Linked DNA regions of Homo sapiens. The protein of the gene in region 1 purifies or fractionates together with the protein of each later gene. This does not show direct contact. Each region holds a gene or a part of one and is shown on either strand. Other genes may lie near its edges. The genes, in order: CCDC117 and CDK19.

Region 1 (3,500 bases):
GAGAAAAGGTCTTGCTAATATTGTCCAGGCTGGTCTCTCCTCAGCTTAAGTGATCCTCCTGCCTCAGTCTCACAAAGTGCTGGCACAGGTGTGCACCATCGTACCTAGCCCATTTTAACATTTTTGAATACACAGTTACCACTGCCATCTAAATACTAACAATAGCAGTGAACTGCTCTGAGTGGAAAGCAGTCTATGGGTTTTAGAATAGCAACACATGGCCTGCCTATTGTGGGAACAGCTAATTCAAATATGATACTTAGCTTTATCCCAACATAATCATCCCTTCAGGATAAATTTAAGTCCTTCACTGATATGAATGCTGCTTCAACTACAATTCAGAGGAAAGGAGATATCTGATTTCATTATTTAAGTGGAGTAATACAAATATCTCAAAAGTCCAAAACACTTAAGAAGTTTTATTGAAAACGATAAAATACAGTAACACCAGATTCTCATTTTAAAGTAAAATTAACAGCATCTTCCAGAACATTCCTAGAACTGAACCATTCTTGTCACTATTGAAAAACAAAGCCAAGTTCCAAATCCAAAATAATAAATGAACGTGCTGATAAACATTCTTCTTATGGTTCCAGCCCCTACTTTAGTTATTTTCCTAAATTTTACATGTGTACCTTTTCAAGAAAGAGTAAGTTTTTTAAGTGATCAATATTTATGAGAACTGGACTTTCTTCATATAATTACAAAAAAAAAAAAAAAACCCAAAAAACAAAATCCACAACGCACCCTACTCAAACTCAGATAAAATACACATTTGTTCATTAAAGCTCACCTGCTTTAGAGAATTTTTTCTCTTCACACATTAGCACAGTAAGCCAATGTTTGATCCATGCTGCAAAAGCTACACAAAACGAAAAGCCCTGGTAACTCCCTAGGGAACTCTTAAGGCAAAGCAAAAGCAAAAACCTTATGCTACAAAAGTAAAACAAAAAGCAGAGGCATTGGGACTGTGGAGACGGCTCAGATGAATAAGCACCACAAGGATGAAGAAAACAATTTTTGTAGAAATTTTTGCAAGAAGATAAAGTCCAAAAAAGAACATAAAACATCAATTATCCTGCAGAAATAATTATCATGTCAGGTAACTTGACTACTGAAATAAGCTCTGTTTGGATTTTAATTAACAGATTCTTAATTCTCTCCTACATTTACCAGTAGTATCAGAGCCTTGTGTTGGGGGCTTGTTTCTTCCTTTTCATCATAAGACCTTTAGTCGGAGACCTGCCCAGCAATTCCTGTAGAAGACAATCTTGGTGTGTTTTAGGTCCTTCTTTGGAAAGCTGTCATCTCCCTTTCCACCTAAACACTAACTCTACCTCTGGGCAGTCACTTCATGTTTTTGTGTTGCATTAGAACACATTTTTCAGCATGGAGATTTATTTAAGGCTCATACTTTACAAGTTGGTCCCATCAAACAATGACTACAAGGCAGAAGTTTATCAAATGGCATGAATCAAACACTTGCACATTTCAAAAGAATACAGTTTACATTCATCTCGAAATCTGAGATTAAGAAACTATTAGCTGGTTTCCAACTGCTTTCAATACTGGTTTGAAGTTTGAATAATTTTACTGTATAGACATTAAATATTTTGTTTAAATATTAAACATTAAATCTTTTCCTGACTATCCAGACAGAAAGAGAAAGCAGGAACAGGCAAAGAAGCAACAGTCCAATTAACAGACTTGTGACTTCTACGCCATCTGTAACAAGGGGAGGGATTTCAGTAAGGGTTCCAAAAACGCCTAGAAGGTGGTTTCTAAAAATTCACCTTTACGTGGCATAAGCCATTTTTTTCTACAAAAGGTATCTGATTCCTACAAAGGGGGAAGAAACCCAGAAAACAAAACTGGGGTGGTGTCCTGTTGTGTGATGGAAGGGCATTATACCATTACACTCGTTTAATAACTTATAGAGGATACTCTGTAGCAATAAAGAAATTGTCATTTTATTTTGCCCTATCAGCCCCTGCCACATAGAAGAGCTCTTCCTGAGAAACTAAAAATTTCAAACCTGGCTATCCTCAAAGGACACCTGAAGCCTGGTTTGGGTACTCAAGAAGATGAAGGCTTCCTGCTAGCAGGAAGCAATTCTCCACTACCTTTTAGGTTTACTGCACAATAGTCTAAGCACCAGTCAAATTGGCTATTTCAGTAAACCTCAATGTCACCTGCTCATATATTTTCAGCTAATCCTTCACTGTTTTCTATATTAACATTTAAAAACAACTTGCTGGCTGCGTGCCGTGGCTCACGCCTGTAATCCCAGCATTTTGGGAGGCTGGGGTGGGCAGATCACCTGAGGTCAGGAGTTCGAGACCAGCCTGGCCAACATGGCAAAACCGGTCTCTATTAAAAATACAAAAATTAGCTGGGCGTGGAGGTGGGCACCTGTAATCCCAGCTACTTGGGAGGGTGAGGCAGGAGAATTGCTTGAACCCGGGAGATGGAGGTTGCGGTGGGGGAAAAAAAAAAAAACTTGCTAATACAAGTATAACTTTTTAAAAAAATTACCAAAGTTATCAATGTTGGGTTTAGCTGATAAAGCACTTCCTTAAGATGAACTAAAGGATGCTTCTCCCACAGGCAAATTGCAGATGGGTTACCTCATAATCTTTTAACTATCAAAGTCAATTAATTTGTAAACATTACTGAATAACTGGGCTTATCAATTACGCAAGGGAAACCAAGGAGCAACAGTGGCACAAGGCAAAAAAGCCTTAAAGAAAAAACTTTCTCTATATTTTCATAGTCAAAGAGGAGAGCCACAATACTATCGGCTATTTAATCAACAGAGCTATATTGAATTGATAACTAAATTACAAGTTGCTAAGAAATTAAATTTCTTAGCAACAGGCTTAAGCTACTGCTGCTCTCTTCCCTTCTTCTCCCCAATTATATATAGTCACCACTGTAAACAGCTCATATCTACACATTAAGCTGTGACTTAACTGTCAGGATACAGTTGTAGGAGCATCCTTCTTAATCATCTTTTTTAATTCAAGGAGAATATTCTCCAAGTGTCTGAATAGTTTAGACAATGTGACATATGATTTAAGTCACCCTTACACATACAGCTTCTATACTTGTCTTTGAAGACAATGTAAACCAACATTCCTTTAATAAGCCCCACAGAAAACTGCTTTTCCCTTGAGACAAACGTCCTTGGCAAAAAGGTGAAGTCAATAAATGGCTACCCAAAATAAGAGTCCCACCCCCAAATCACAGGTGGAGATATTATTACACCCGTCTCATAAAACTTTCAAGTCCCTATACTATGCAAAGAGTCTCATAACTGAACACAGGATTCTTCTAACATTTGACAACTTTAGTGTAGAAATTGGTTTCTAGAGTTCCATCTCTTCTTCTGTGCTAGTAGCTGTCTCCAAACTATTATAAAGAGACATCCCTGTTGGCCGAGGTTCCGAAAACAGTTCAGTTCTCTGAGGGAAGGCAGTGCCAGCAGCTACATGCTTAGC
Region 2 (4,032 bases), on another chromosome or scaffold:
TACACAGGAGGCTGAGGCAGGAGAATCACTTGAACCCAGAAGGCGGAGGTTGCAGTGAGCTGAGATTGCATCACTGCACTCCAGCCTGGACAACAAAAGTGAAACTCCGTTTCAAAAAAAAAAAAAAAGAAACAGGTAAAATCAATGTGTGCACTTCAGATACTTCTGAAGTGAATTTTCTAAATATTACAAATACTATCTTCTCAGTAAAATGTCAGTTTATTGCTTAAGTTCTTTAAAATCAACATTTATGATTATATTTATTTTGAAATATGGTATTGGACAGTACAGTTCTACAGGATCTGACTATTCCAATGTACAACATCATCTTCTTTCATCACCCCACTGATGTTCAAAGTAAAGTACATACACTGTCCAGTAAGCCTTGGTTGACATATAGGGGAATATAGAAAAATGGAGAAAATACAATGTCTGTGAATATCCATGAAAAGAATTGAACAAAAAAAACACACTGGAAATTCTTGTCCATATCTGCTATAATAGCATACACTCTGAAAGTTTCTTTAAGACCTGAGTCTGTTAAAGTTATTCCTCAACAGATTTATAACTTATATAGATGACAAACCACATTATATTAAATCAAAATTTATTAGTCAGGTGTGGTCATGCACCTGTGGTCCCAGCTACTTGGAAGGCTGAGGCAGGAGGATCGCTTGAGCCCAGGAGGTCAAAGGTGCAGTGAACCATAACTGTGCCATTGCACTCCAGCCTGGGTGATAGAGCGAGACCCTGTCTCAAACAAACAAACAAACAAAAAAGGCTGGGTGTGATGGCTCATGCCTATAATCTCAACAGTTTGAGAGGCCAAAGTAGGAAAATCACTTGAGCCCAGGAGTTCAAGACCAGCTTGTGCAAGGTGGCAAGACCTTGTCTCTATAAAACATTTTTGAAAAATTAGCCAGGCATAGTGGTGCTAAATTAATTATCCATAATTTTAACTTAGTGCCAGATTTGAAGTTTGTTACTTTTAGCAGTTCCTCAGATAAAGTGTTTAAATGTTCTGATTCCTAATTTGAAAAGACAGGAATTAGAATTTTTTGCTTCTTTCATACGTTGATAAAAACATCCTTAAAGCAATCTTCACTATACATATTAGTAAACTGCCATTAATTACTTGCATAAAAGTATAGTCTCCCGCCAGGCATGGTGGCTCACGCCTGTAATTCCAGCACTTTGGGAGGCCGAGGTGAGCAGATTACCTGAGGTTGGGAGTTCGAGACCAGCCTGACCAACATGGAGAAACCCCGTCTCTACTAAAAATACAAAATTAGCCAGGCATGGTGGTGCATGCCTATAATCCCAGCTACTAAAGAGGCTGAGGCAGGAGAATCGCTTGAACCTGGGAGGCAGAGGTTGCAGTGAGCCAAGATCGTGCCACTGCACTCCAGCCTGGGCAACAAGAGCAAAACTCCCTTCCCCGTTCGTCTCCCCCGGGCCAAAAAAAGTATAGTCTCCCATTCATTAAAATCTTTCTGAAGTAAAATTTCTAAATATTACAAATACTATCTTCTCAGTAAAATGTGAGTTTATTGCTTAAATTCTTCAAAATCAACATTTATGTTTATATTGACTTTGAAATATGGCTAACAGAGCAAGCTTTCCTTTCTGTGCATTAACAATATGTATTTTATATAAATATGCTCCATACCTATATAAAACAATCCTAGAAATACAGTGAGATTATACTTACCCACAAGTCATGCTCTGCATAATCAAACAGCAGCCATACCTTCCTGTCACTGTGAGAAAGGAACACCTTCTGCAATGCAATCACATTAGGGTGCTTCAATTCTCGCAAAAGCTGAATGCAAAAGAAAGAGAGGGGTCACTGTTGTGTTAGCAAGGAGGGGGAAATGATGAATGTCTTATAACTTCAAAACGAAATTTCTGAAAATCTAGAGAATCCAGGTAAGCAAAATGAAAGAAAAAAATACCACCCAAAATACTGGCATTCAGAGATAAGCTCTGTCAATATCTTGGTGCATATCTTTCCAATCCTTTTTCTATGTGCTTAGGTATATCTGTTTTGTTTTGTTTTACTTTCTTTCTTGTCAGAGACTGCAAGCAGGAATGTGTTTTTAAAAATAGGATTTTAAATGGTAAAATGTAAAACAGCAAACAAAAGTAATATCATATCATTAAATAATTAATTACATTTTTGTACATGCATATCTTTTTTACTAAAGAAACTGTTCCTTGGGAGGCAGGACTCATGTATTAATACTGCTTATATCTACCCTAGCACTGTATTGGTGCTCAAGAAACAGGCGACAAAACAAGGAAAGATATTTAACAATCCCTGTACTTATCCATCCCTAGAGTATGTGGTTGAGGGTTTTTTTTTGAAGAGTAGTGAGTATAAGGGAATGACTGTCATGCCCACTTATAAAAACTGAAGTTGAGAACAGGTCCTGTAAACAGAAAAAAAGAAATAGGACTTCACAAAGTAAAAGCTTTAAGCTGGACTCTGACGATATGTAGGAAAGATAGACCAGAGCAGCAAGCAGAAACAGCACTTTGCGCATAACAGACAGCTGTTTGATAAAATATTTAGCAACAATGACATTATTGCTCAAGGTAAAAGCCTTAGAAATATGCCTCCCTCAGGCTGTCCTTAAACAGGGTTCAGATTTCACAGGTAAAGAGAAACATATTCAATTTAATAAATATTTTGAATACCTTTTAAATGTAAAGCTCTGTGAAAGATGCAAAAAGGGAAAGACAAAACTTCCCTTGAATATTTTATATGTGCAAGATGATTATATACAAATGTTTTTCTCTCACTTAATCTTTAGAACAATTTTATGATGCACACAGAACCCAAGGCTCAGTGTGATAAAAATAACATGACCAAAGTCAAATAGCTAGAAAGAGAAGGGGTTTGGACTTAAATAGATCTGCCTGATTGCAAAGTCCATGCTTTTTCCACTACAGCTAAAGTTCATGTCTTCAATTCCCACAATGTGGTAAGGAAGACAGACATATAAATAGATCAATGAGGCAGAGAAAAATAAACTGCTTACCCATTCTAATAACTTTAGTAACTTTTTTTTTTTAGACAGTGTCTTGCTCTGTTGCCCAGGCTGGAATGCAATGGCACAATCTCAGCTCACTGCAACCTCCGCCTCCAAGGTTCAAGCAATTCTCCTGCCTCAACCTCCTGAGTAGCTGGGATTACAGGTACGCACCACCATGCCCGGCTAATTTTTGTATTTTTAGTAGAGATAGGGTTTTACCATGTTGGCCAGGCTGGTCTCAAACTGCTGACCTCAAGTGATCTGCCCACCTTGGCCTCCCAAAATCTAGAGAGTTTGCCATTTTGAACACTTCAGGATCTCTGGCTCTGGCAAACCCTGTTTTTAATGACCCCATTGCTATGGCCAGCCTTGAAGCACTTACACTGTGGCAAGAGACTTCACCCCAGGCACAATGACTGTCTCCTTCTTTCTGACTCCTTGATATTGATGAACGTAGAGAGTTTGCCTTTATTACCTATGCAAAATATGTTCTCTTTGCAGCCTGAAGTAGATGGGAAAGTAGAACTCCACTTCCGCATCTAAACCAGGCTCTTGAAACACCCAACACTGGCACAGATCCCTGATTCCTGGACCTCACTTGTCTGGGAAAGTGGTTGTCACAGTAGCAATATTTAATCAACACTTCTAAAAAACTACATTTTCTGTGACTTCCAATTGTTGATCCCACTAGAATAAATTCATTTTAAGTCCTGTGTTAAAAAATTTGTTTTGACTAGATAATACATTCATATGGTTCAAAAATCAAAGTATATACAAGGTTATATATTGAAATGTCTCACTACCACTCCTCTTGCTTCCCTGGAGGTAACAACTTTTATTAATTGCTTATTTTCCTTGCAATGTTTCTTAATGCAAATAAAAACAAATATGAATATATATTTTATCCTCCATTGTTTACACAAAAGATAGCATAATATACACACTGTTCTGCACTTTGTTTGTTTTCTTACCCTTACTCTATCTTGGAAATCTC

Evidence for each region.
Region 2: the proteins of CCDC117 (region 1) and CDK19 purify together in Homo sapiens (co-immunoprecipitation; one large-scale study listed by IntAct). This does not show direct contact.

Annotation. Positions count from the first base shown.
Region 1 is NC_000022.11:28,786,195-28,789,694, reverse strand, and holds the end of CCDC117 (coiled-coil domain-containing protein 117), read right to left. Parts: coding exon 3,369-3,500; 3' UTR 400-3,368; downstream 1-399. UniProt on the Homo sapiens protein: Facilitates DNA repair, cell cycle progression, and cell proliferation through its interaction with CIAO2B.
Region 2 is NC_000006.12:110,668,720-110,672,751, forward strand, and holds part of CDK19 (cyclin-dependent kinase 19), read right to left. Parts: intron 1,823-4,032; coding exon 1,712-1,822; intron 1-1,711.